Homo sapiens: one gene and its partners. The protein of the gene in region 1 interacts with the protein of each later gene in a biochemical or structural test. Each region holds a gene or a part of one and is shown in the gene's direction. Other genes may lie near its edges.

Region 1 (3,827 bases):
TTACAGAGACTACAGACCTCGCGGGCTAAGCCTGGTTGTATTATTAAGGGCAGAAGAATGCAGTGGGACTTACGGGTTTGAGGTACTAATGAGGTCCCCCAAGTCAAGAGGAGGCTCATTATGTACATGTGGAGGTCAAGAAGCCAGAGTGAAGCTGCCCAAACAGGGTACCCTTTATGTTTTCAAATTCCTGTCTATCTCCCAGTGTATCCCTACTGTTGGACAATAAGTTTTTGGGGGGTTTTGCTGTTTTAAATAATGCTATGCTGAACATCCTTGTAACTTTTCTGATTAGTTTTTTTAGGATAAATTGCTAGAGATGTAATTCATTGCTGGACCACAGGGCCAAATATAAATCCTAATACTTAAAAATATGTGTGTGTGTGTGTCTGTGTATGTGTAAATGTATAGATATATACACACATATATACACATACACATATATACACATGTGTATATATGTACACGTGTGTGTATATATGTATATATTTTTTTTCTCGAAAAGATGTACAAACAGTTAAAAAAAAATTCAGACAGTACAAATACGGGATGTCCAGTGAATAAGTCTGCCTCCCACACCTGGCCCTCCTTCTGCAGGCTTCACCTTAAGAGAAAAATGCTGTTACTAGGTTTTTGTGTATTTGCCCAGAAATATCCTATGTTTATATAAACATGTATGTTTCTATTATTTTCACTCTCTTTCTCTTTTTTTTTTTTTTTTTTTTTTTGAGACAAGGTCTGGCTCTGTCGTCGTCCAGGCTGGAGTTCAATGGTGTGATCTTGGCTTACTGCAACCTCTGCCTCCCAGGCTCAAGTGATCCTCCCACATCAGCCTCTCTAGTAGCTAGGACTACAGGCGTGCACCATCACACCCTGCTAATTTTTTGTATTTTTTGTAGAGTTGGGGTTTTGCCGTGTGGCCCAGGCTGGTCTCGAACTCTTGAGCTCAAGCAATCCGCCAACCTTGGCCTCCCAAAGTGTTGGGATTACAGGAGCCATGAACCACCACACCCAGCCCACCCTCTTTTTTTTTTAAACACAAATGGGAACATCTTATATCTACACTTTAAAATAGTGCTTCCCATTTCTTTGTATGGCTGTGTGATATATATGCCCAGTCCTGAGCTGGTAATGACACACTCCAGGGCTGCAAGGTCTTTATTGAGCAACCACAGAGTGCAAGGCACAGGATTAAGGCTGCCTCTGCGAAAGCAACACGATGTCTTAAACTGGGCTAGTCCCCCAGAATGCTTTGCAGTCTCCCGGGGAAAGGGGATTTGTAGCGCGCCTGGGACCCAGTGGGCCCCTAGTATCCCAGGCAGGAAGTAGAAGAGGCTGTCAGACCCTGGGGTTGTGGTGGGGTCAGGAACTCTTCGCCCCACTACCCCAGCAAGCACCCAGTATCTACCCCAGTACTCCCGGAGGGAGCTGGTCTGCCCGAAGTGAGTGTGCCATTGTATGCAGGGGCGGGGGCCACAGACTCAAGAGGCCTGGGGGAAGCTGGCTTCACAGGTGAAGGGTGAGGGGTAGGGGCACGTCTGTGCCCGGCACTGGAGCAGAATGCTTGCTTTCTCCTGGATAGCCGACTAGATTGTCTCCTTTTTTTCTTTCCTTTTTCCCCAGAGGCTCATCCAAAATAGAGGAAGCATGCGAAATCTACGCCAGAGCAGCAAACATGTTCAAAATGGCCAAAAACTGGAGTGGTATGTCATCTCCGCTAGAGCTCCTCCAAGGTGCTCTCCTCCTCCCTCAGCTTCCACTCACACAGGCCTGCCCGAGAGGTTGGCCTTGAGGGCCCTTTCTCTTTGTATGCCCTCTCCGGCATCGGAAAGCCACTGGCCTGCTCTCTTGTTTTGTGCCTGCTGGGTTACTTTATACTCTGGGTCATGGGGCCTTGGTGAAAGGACAGAGAGGATGGGAATAAATAGATTATTAGACCTAGATAAACCCATGTGGATTGATGAGCTCTTAGAGTCCTCCTTAAATTCAGAACTTCAGGTTTCCTGGTAACTTCCTTAGTGCTTCCATCAGTGTCTAAATTCTAGGCTGGGGGAGGATGTTCAGGTGATTCCAATAACAACGTGAATCATGGCTGCTGTTTGTTGAGTCCTAAGTGCTCATCATTTAATTGCGTTAGCACAGCAGCCCTAAGGGTCAGTCTATAAATATCCCTATTTTACAGATTTGGAAACTGAGGCTTGGCTTAGTCTCTTGCCCAGGATGCCAGAACTAGTAAGTGACAGAACCAAGATTCAGAAACCAAGGCTCTGACTGCAGAGCCTGAGTGTTTAACCTGCCCCAGTGAGGCAGGATAGCTTCACAGAGGAGAGGGGTGGGGAGGAGCCCCTTGGGCTCAGGGAGGCTGGAGATCTGTTTGGAGCTCCCTGCAGGCCCAAGAAGTCCAACAAGCCAGTGTGTTGAGCCCTTTCGAGGCTCATTTCATCATACATCTTTCATGTCACCAAGATTGAATTAAGGAAATACGGCAAGAGACCCAGTGTTTGAATGCAGGGAGGAACTTCTGACTGTGGAGGAGAGGGAACCTGGTGGTGGGACCATGGAGGCAGGGTGCAGAGGTGCACAATAAAATTGATTATCATCGTTTTTGAGAATGTTGTTGGTTTCCCCAAAATTCAAAGAGTTATTCCTGAGTTTTCACAAAATACGTTGTGAATAAAGCCAAATGTTTTTTGTATTTTTATGCTCCCAAACTTAGAAAATTCCTCTAGAGAAAAAAAGCTTATTTTTTAATTACATAGGTGTTGCTTTTCCCCTAAAATTTGTTACCTCTGCCCCCAAACTCTTCAAAGAAAAGCCCTAGGCCATTTCCCCCCGGTAATATCCCCTTTTCTTGAAATTTTTTTTTTTTTTTTTTTTTTTTTTTTTTTGAGACAGTCTTGCTCTGTTGCCAGGCTGGAGTGCAGTGGCGCGATCTTGGCTCACTGCAACCTCCGCCTCCCTGGTTCAAGTGATTCTCCTGCCTCAGCCTCTTGACTAGCTGGGATTACAGGCACGTGCCACTACGCCCAGCTTATTTTTGTATTTTTAGTAGAGACAGAGTTTTACCATGTTGTCCAGGATGGTCTCCATCTCCTGATCTCGTGATCCGCCCACCTCGGCCTCCCAAAGTGCTGGGATTACAGGCATGAGCCACCGCGCCTGGCCGTAATTTTATACTCAAATTTGGAACTCTTGAAAATAATGAAATCATATAGTGAAAACCCGGAAGGCTTTGTCTTTTCTGCTGCTCAAAACTTAAGAGGATAGGGCCAGGCCTCCTGGTCCTCTTCCAGCTTAGAAACTCTGACTCAGATTCAGCTGGAGGAGAATGAAGGGGAGAAGCCTCAGAGCTGAGCTGGAGGTGGTCAGCTGCACGAGGAGGAGGAGAGATGCTGCTGCCTCCCAAACGTCAGTTAGGAGATGTGTGGGCAGAATGGCTTGGGACCCACAGAAGCTGACCGTGTGCAGATGAGCACAGGATGGATGAGGCTTCAGGCACGGTCTCTTCTGCCCTCCGCCCATGGGCACTGGTCTGCATGTATTCATTCTTGCTGTCCACATCCTGTTTCCCTCTCTGGACATGCAGCTCCTGGAGGGAGCCGGCTCTGTGTTGTCCGACCCCAACTCCATGAGCCTCACAATTCATGCAAGTGCCTTGTCCATGGGGATCTGCAGTGAAGGGAACAGAATGTGAACAGAGGCAGAGGAGTTGGGAGAATCAGGAAGAGCTTTGGGGAGCTGTGGAAAAAGAAACAGGACTTGGAAAGGGGAGTAGATGGGAAGATGTTATGTGGTTTAATCTCAGTTGCCCCTTGCTTCCCAAAATA
Region 2 (3,600 bases), on another chromosome or scaffold:
CCACACCCTTAGAAAAATTACCAATGAAAGTTGAAAAATTGCTCCCTTAATTGTAGCATTAGTTCAAGAATTTTTTTGAAAGAATAGTGCCATATGTATTAAAGAGATTTTTGAGGAACAAAAAAACACAGTCAAAAATTTGAGGGCAATATACTACTACTGATTTTACTCTAGAAATGAACCAAATTATTTTTAGTTGCTGTAGAGGTACTCCACTAAATCTGTAAACATGTTTTTTTGTTTTGTTTTGTTTTTTGCGTCTGCAGCGCAAATCCAGAAAAACCCTGTGCATCATCATTCTTATCCTTGTCATTGGAGTTGCGATTATCAGTCTCATCATATGGGGATTGAACCACTGAAGTTATAAAGGAGCACACTGTCGCACTACATTGTCTAAATTATGTAGGAAGATTCCTGTAATCATGTTTTTTTAATTATTATTTTAAAGCTATTGTATAAAGGATGGTTCCCATACTTTGTTATTTTTATTGGGGGGGTTGGGGTGGTTCCTTTGGATTAAATCTGATATTTTCTAATACTGAAAGATTTTCTAAATGTCACTGCTGACATAACTCCCTTGGTCTTCAATTTAATAGTTGTTAAGTTTTTGCCCACATTGCATATGCCTTTCATTTATAATTTATTTACCCTGCTTGACTTAGTTTTGGGAATTCGTAAATTTAAAGGTGTGTGTATTCTGTTTGCATCTCCCTGTCACTGTGACACACCTAGATGTGTGTTACTTCAATTAAAATTCTCAAATTTAATTTTGATTTGCTTCAGCAGGGAAAATATTCTCAATAATGTAAAATAATTAAGGTCTATACATGGGTTGTATTTTTCTGGTTCACAACAGCACAAAGTGTCTTTCATTTTTTTGTTGGTTTTCTTTTAAGATCTTTTTTACCCTGAAGTCGGTGAATACTTTTCTAGTTTATTTGATACTCTTTCTGTGTATATATTAAGCTTTTGCTGTAGATTGCCTAGTAAAATTACTAAGGATAGGTTGTTTTTACATATGGTCTATTTAAGTCTGATGTTTACGGGGGAAAGTGTAGTTACTAAAAATGTTTAACATAATTTGGAAGAAGAGTATGAACAACCAATACCAATACCTATTGCGTTTGGATTCTTAAGACCCCAGTTTGTTATTCCACTAAACTAGTTATCTTAACCATATCATCTGGTTTTGTGGGCCATTATTTACCTTCCCTTATGTCTTATAGAATAATGGTTAATATTTTTAGGTCAAAATTACTTTTGGAAAGTAACTTTCCCACAATTAACTGTTTTTGAGCACCTGACAAAATTTAGTGTTTACCTTGCGTGCCATTTTGTGTCATCCTTCATTAAAAAAGCAATTGGAGGTTTGCCAGTTATCTCACTTCCCTTTTTAAATCAATGTTGTTTTAATGCACTAATCTGAATTCTGTAAAGAGGATTATCTTAGTTTATACTTTGTATTTTATAATGTTCTTGTATAGCAGCTCGGTACTGAAGGCGGTGTTTAACTTGGCAAGCTCTGAGACTTCAAATGGGAACAAATAGTAAGTAGCTAAGTAAACCACATCTTTGCAACCAAAATAAAGATGAGTTAAAAGGTATCTGGTTAGGCCTATTTCATGAGGACTATGCTCTGGTGGGACCACAGGTCACCTGATACTTAGTGCTGTGCTGCCTGAAACCTCAGCATGGAGACATCACCACATGCACTGTGGCCATTCAGCATCTTTCTGGAGCACCAGTTCACTCCAGGTTTTTATTTTAGGGTGTCATCGATTTTACCTACTTTGTCAGACTGGTAGAAGTTGCTTTGCATATCAGAAAAACTCCATTTTTTTCCACAAAAGGGATTACAGAAAACTCTTTTGTGAGTGAGTGATTGGAACTTAGAGACTCCTGTTGCCAGAATCAGACTGCCCTAGAACAGAATGGACAATGCAGGGAGGAGAATTCACACAAACAGCACCTGTTCTGAGGCCTGTGCCAGCCCACCAGGCCTGCTCAAATGTGGTCTTTACTTCAAGTGCACAGAGGCACATGAGGTTTCTGGTGATAAACCAGCGTCTTACCGCTGTTTTAAAGTCCCATCCCCATGGCTTTCACAATCAGTTCCGTTTTTTTTGCTGTACTTGATAAAATGTTTATTCTCATACAGGTCAAGTACATTTACTTCTATTCACAGTGAGTACCCAATAACAACAAAAGCGCTTACAAATTTGGGGGGCGTGATTTTAGTACCTTTATTTGAAGTGTAATCATTTTAAATTATTATTATTTTAACTGGGGCAGTTATCAGTGGTTTAAACAGGAACTTTAGTGGCTTCAATTTGTTTAAGAAACATATTAAGTTTGAGGGAAAAATTTCCCATGAAATATTTGGAACGTAAGAGTAGTATTGATTAGAGAAAATTAAATAAGAAACATAGTATGGTAGCCAAATTTTTTAAAAAATCTTGAACTTTTCTGTAGGTCAGTTTTAGAACTGCTGTGAAAAGTGAAGGTTGCCCTGTGGAGATTAAAATTAGAGTTGTTTTCATAACTGACAGCATGGTGAATCCATTTGAGTCAAAGTGAAGAATTTCCTCATCAAGTGACTATACATTTGTTTTTGTGTGCTCAAAAGAAATACTCAAACACAGACTGATATTAACCAGCCAGGTAAATTGAACGACAATGTGGCATTAGGTATTTGGCTGTTTATTGGTCGTTAAATACTATGGTTTTGCAATATGATTGATGGTAAAAGAGTGATGTCATATTGATACTAGAGTAGCTTGTTTTTTTAGTAGGTGTGGGACCATCTCTTTTACAAGTGCAACTCAGTCTAGGACAGCCATGGATGCAGTGTCTGGAGTTGGACCCTCTGAGCCCGCTGGCTGCCCCAGTAGCATCTGCATTGGTGACCAAGGACACTGCACTTTGAAGAGGTCGCCACTGGGTTATTTAGTGTCTTCACTGCTTTTGTTAAAAATTGTAAAATTTTGTACACAAAAAGTTGTGTTTTTGAATATCAATTGTTTAGACACACCTACAATGATAAATAAGTGCCTTTAAAGGCCCCTCTTTCCATGAAATACATCTGTGGTTTAGCAAGGAAAGTACAAAATAGTTTATGTAGTTGGTATAATTTTTATTTGTGTCTTCATGTAGAAAAAATGAATGTCATAATAAAATATAAAACTTACGTAAAGAAAATAAAGTCATTGTCCACCTTAATAGCTAAGGTCCACAAGGGTAACTTATGCAGCATTTATTTTTTTTGAAAGTCAAAATTGAATTTATTTCTTTCACATGGCTGGTTTGCTGCAATATGAAGTTTCAGAATGGGCTGAAGTAAGTTGATTGAGGGATTTGAGTTGAATGACATTTTCAAGTTCATTTAAATATGATAAAAATTCATTGGTGGTAAATAACATCTGTCTTTCCTGGAAAAAAAAAAGTTGTGTATTTTCATGATTCAGTTAAAACAAAAAATGAGCCTGTGAATCCCAGGCCTTTTTAGTCCTCCATAACATTTGAACAGTTTGACTTGTCAGCAAAGAAATACACTTATCAAATTTTAAACCAATGGGAGCCTGAAAGTGTTACAGTGTACTG
Region 3 (3,827 bases), on another chromosome or scaffold:
TTTAATTATACCTCTCACTGTACAAATAAGGAAACTAGGCCAGGCGTGGTGGCTCACTTCTGTAATCCCAGCACTTTGGGAGGACAAGGCCAGTGGATCACCTGAGGTCAAGAGTTCGAGACCAGCCTGGACAACATGGCAAAACCCTGTCTCTACTAAAAATACAAAAATTAGCTGGGTGTGGTGGCAGGCGCCTGTAATACCAGCGACTTGGGAGGCTGAGACAGGAGAATAGCTAGAACCCGGGAGGCGGAGGTTGCAGTGAGCCGAGATCATGCCACTGTGCTCCAGCCTGGGTGACAGAGTAAGACTGCGTCTCAAAAACAAACAAACAAAAACAAATAAGGAAACTGGGCTCAGAGAGATGAAGGTACACAGGTGATGGGTAGATAGGGACAAAGAAAAGAACCTAACCCTTTGGACTCCCCAAGCCATTCTAATATTTGTTTTTGTAAGTTAGTAGCTTCTGCACGTTAGTATGTCAGAACTCAACTAGTTTCCTATCTTTCCTGATAACCTCTCCGACCCACCCATGATTTAGCTAACATCTGATTTGGTCAACCAAGCACCCTGGTCCTCAGGTTCAGTGTGAGACTTAATGAAATAGGCGTGAATTTTTTTTTTTTTTTTTTTTTTTTTAGACGGAGTCTCGCTCTGTTGCCCAGCCTCGCAATCTCAACTCACTTCAACCTCTGCCTCCGGGGTTCAAGCGATTCTCCCACCTCAGCCTCCTGAGTAGCTGAGATCACAGGCGCCCGCCACCACGCCCGGCTAATTTTTGTATTTTTAGTAGAGACGGGGTTTCACTATATTGGCCAGGCCGGTCTGGAACTCCTGACCTTAGGTGATCCACCCAAAGTGCTTGGATTACAGGCATGAGCCACCGCGCCTGGCTGGCATGAATTTTTTCTTCTGTCCCTAGTTCATCTTCAGGTCACTGTCTGATTTTATTAGTTCTCAAATTTAAATCACTATGCATGCTCAGCTCTTCTAGTTATTTCCCTTCTTTCCTCATGTTGGGAAAAAAACCCCGATTTATTCTAATTGTGAGAAATGAAAGCGAACAAATCCTATCATTCCCTATTGTCTTGTGCAAATATGAAGAGAGATATGATAGTGGGGTAAATAAAAGCATCAGGGAATCCATTCGGCAGAATCTTTCTCCTCTCAGCGTGCTTGCAGTTAGATATTCTGAGATTCCAGTGGAGAAATGGTATGGTGGAAACATTGAGGTTCAACAAGGCTCAATTTAGGGCATATTTTATTCAGATTCTACCATATATATTGTCTAAAATGAAACAACACTGGGGAATGAAAAGGTTGGTCGAAGATGCAAGTTGCCTTTATTAAATAAAGACAAATATTTAATAAAAATAATGTATAAAAATAATCACAATTCACTTTCAAATCTGAAAATACTGAGTTTTCCAGGCTACACATAAATAAAACTGCCAACGATGACAATTCCAGCAACTAGGAAAACAAGTACGCCTACAAAGAAAAGTGAGAAAATTCATGGAGAATTTGAACTCAGAACCAACTCCTCGGAGCTGATCTTTTTTGGGGGAAGCCAGGGAACGCGCCGGGCGCTCTCATCAGCAAGACCATGTTTAAAGAGAGTGTGGAAGCACAGACCAAAATGGACATTCGAGGGCGAACAGCAGCTGGCAAAGGGATAAGTGATCCGAAGCATTAAAGCCCTTGAGACAAATTCCGGCGCGAACCGCCAGTGGGGGATGAGACTCGCAGGCGCAGCCCTCCAGGCCCCGGCGGACTGACACGCACGTTGGAAACGGAGTCACCCACCACAGCCCCGCAGCTCCAGCCAAAATGGCGCCGCCGCTCTGCCCACCCCGCGCACCCCAGGCGGCCGCCGAGCCCGCGCGCGCGCCCTGTGGAGCGAGGACGCCGGGGACGCGGCCAGGGACGCGCGCGTCCTCACGGCGGTTGCACGCCTGCGCGAGGGCGGGCGGCGGGGGCGCGCGCGCGGCGGGGGCGGGCTTTGCCGAGCGCAGAGCTGCAGCCGCCGAGCCGGACGTGTCCGCGAAGATGGCGGGCCGGGTGAGTGCCGGTCTGGGAGCCCAGGCTTGAGGCAGGGGCGCCGGGCTCGCGGGCACTCTGGGGTCCAGGCGGCCCCAGAGGAGTGGGAGTGAATCCGAGCAATGGGGCGCGAGGCCAGAGCGGGACTTGAGGGTAGCAGGGGAGCGGTGGCAGGGGATTAGCCCTCCTCAACAACTCCACCCCCCTCGAGGGGAGATGACCCCTCGTTACACGCGTCTGCTGCGCCTCCCGTCATCCTCCCTTCCCATCCCTTGGGGCTTGTTCCCTCGTCCTCCACACAGCCGCAGGGTCGCGGTCGCCGAAGCCCCCTCTGACGGGCTCTGGGGGTCTTTCCGCACCCCCTTGCGAGGGCTTATTAGGGGGCGCCGGAGTAACTGCCGGGAGCACCTCTGCTGCATTCGGGGCAAGGGGTGTAGGAAGGATCTTCAGGAACCCATGTCTGGCTCTTCACAAATTAAAGGTCGTTGGGAAAGAGGAGGGGGTGCCAATGACTTTTAGTGTTAAAGCCCGGCCATCTGGGGGACCTGTCAACTGTCGGGTCAGGCAGGAATTGGCTTTAGCTTGGAGTGAGGATGGATTTGGGGTGTCACGTTTTGTTTTTATGGATGACACTCGCTTCGAATGCAGCAGGATATGCTGTAGTTTCAGGGTTTTAAATTTACTTCCTCCTTTAGCCTTTAGGATCGTTGGGTAGGATGGGTTTGGCGAGGAGAGAGAGCTGGTTGAGTGCTGTATTGCAGTCTGCCTTGAGCTAAAAGCTCTCAAGGGATGAGTCCTGCCCGGAGATTACACTGGTCATAAACCTGAGGACATTAACTGCGTCATTGGGGGTGAAAGATGTGATTGACTGATCTATTTATAACAGAATTTTTGAATAAGTTTGCATAGATTTATGCATATATGCAAATGCCCTATCTGAAGGGACTTGTAGGTCATGAGATTCTAGAGTAAGAAGGGATCTTAAAGGTCATTTAGTTTGGCTTCTTTCTCTTCCTTTTCCCCATGGCCTCTCCTTTTAAGGCTAGTCCTTCTGCCAGTACTTCAGACCCTATCTGTATATTCACCTGCTCCTTCTTAACATAATCAAGCTTCTCTATCTTAAACCCTTCCCCCACCCCCACAGCTGTCACCTTTTCCCGTCCCAGTTTACAGCAGGAAATTTGATAGAGTTGTCTATATTTATTGTCTTCCATTTGCTTACCACCTACTCACCCTTCAACCTACTGCAGTCTGATTTCTGCCCCATCATCCCACTGAAACCTGTCCCTCAACTTAATTGATACCTTTCAATCCTTATCTTATTTGATATCTCAGCAGCGTTTGACGTTGTTGACCATGGCTTCCTTGACGGAAAGCACTCTTCACATGTGTTCTGGAATGCCTCGCTCCTGGTTTGACTCAGACCTCTCTTTTGCGGCCTCACCCTCCTCTACTTTGTTATTCATTGCTGGTATTCCTCAAAGGCCGTCTTCTCACTCTCAATTTCCCGCTCAGGCAATTTCTTCTAAGCCCATAGCTACAACTGTCTATATGCCAGTGATTCTCAATATTTTACCCCCAGTCCAGACCTGCCCTTTAAGTTTCAGGTTAATATGTCCAACTGCTTATTTAAAATCAAGGTCCCGAAACGCAGCTTTTTCAACTCCGAACCCAGGATCTTAGCCCACCTAACTTGTGTAGATACTCCTCGACTTAACGATGGGGCTACCTTCCGATAAACCCATTGTAAGCTGAAAGTATCAGAAGTTGAAAATGCATTTAATACA

What was found.
Region 2: the proteins of NAPA (region 1) and STX7 form a complex in vitro, tested with the Homo sapiens proteins (one study listed by BioGRID).
Region 3: the proteins of NAPA (region 1) and NSF form a complex in vitro, tested with the Homo sapiens proteins (2 studies listed by BioGRID).

What each region holds. Positions count from the first base shown.
Region 1 is NC_000019.10:47,501,299-47,505,125, reverse strand, and holds part of NAPA (alpha-soluble NSF attachment protein), read left to right. Parts: intron 1-1,623; coding exon 1,624-1,703; intron 1,704-3,528; exon of another isoform or gene 3,529-3,669; intron 3,670-3,827. UniProt on the Homo sapiens protein: Required for vesicular transport between the endoplasmic reticulum and the Golgi apparatus. Together with GNA12 promotes CDH5 localization to plasma membrane.
Region 2 is NC_000006.12:132,457,517-132,461,116, reverse strand, and holds part of STX7 (syntaxin-7), read left to right. Parts: intron 1-266; coding exon 267-359; 3' UTR 360-3,600. UniProt on the Homo sapiens protein: May be involved in protein trafficking from the plasma membrane to the early endosome (EE) as well as in homotypic fusion of endocytic organelles. Mediates the endocytic trafficking from early endosomes to late endosomes and lysosomes.
Region 3 is NC_000017.11:46,588,727-46,592,553, forward strand, and holds the start of NSF (vesicle-fusing ATPase), read left to right. Parts: upstream 1-1,942; 5' UTR 1,943-2,049; coding exon 2,050-2,061; intron 2,062-3,827.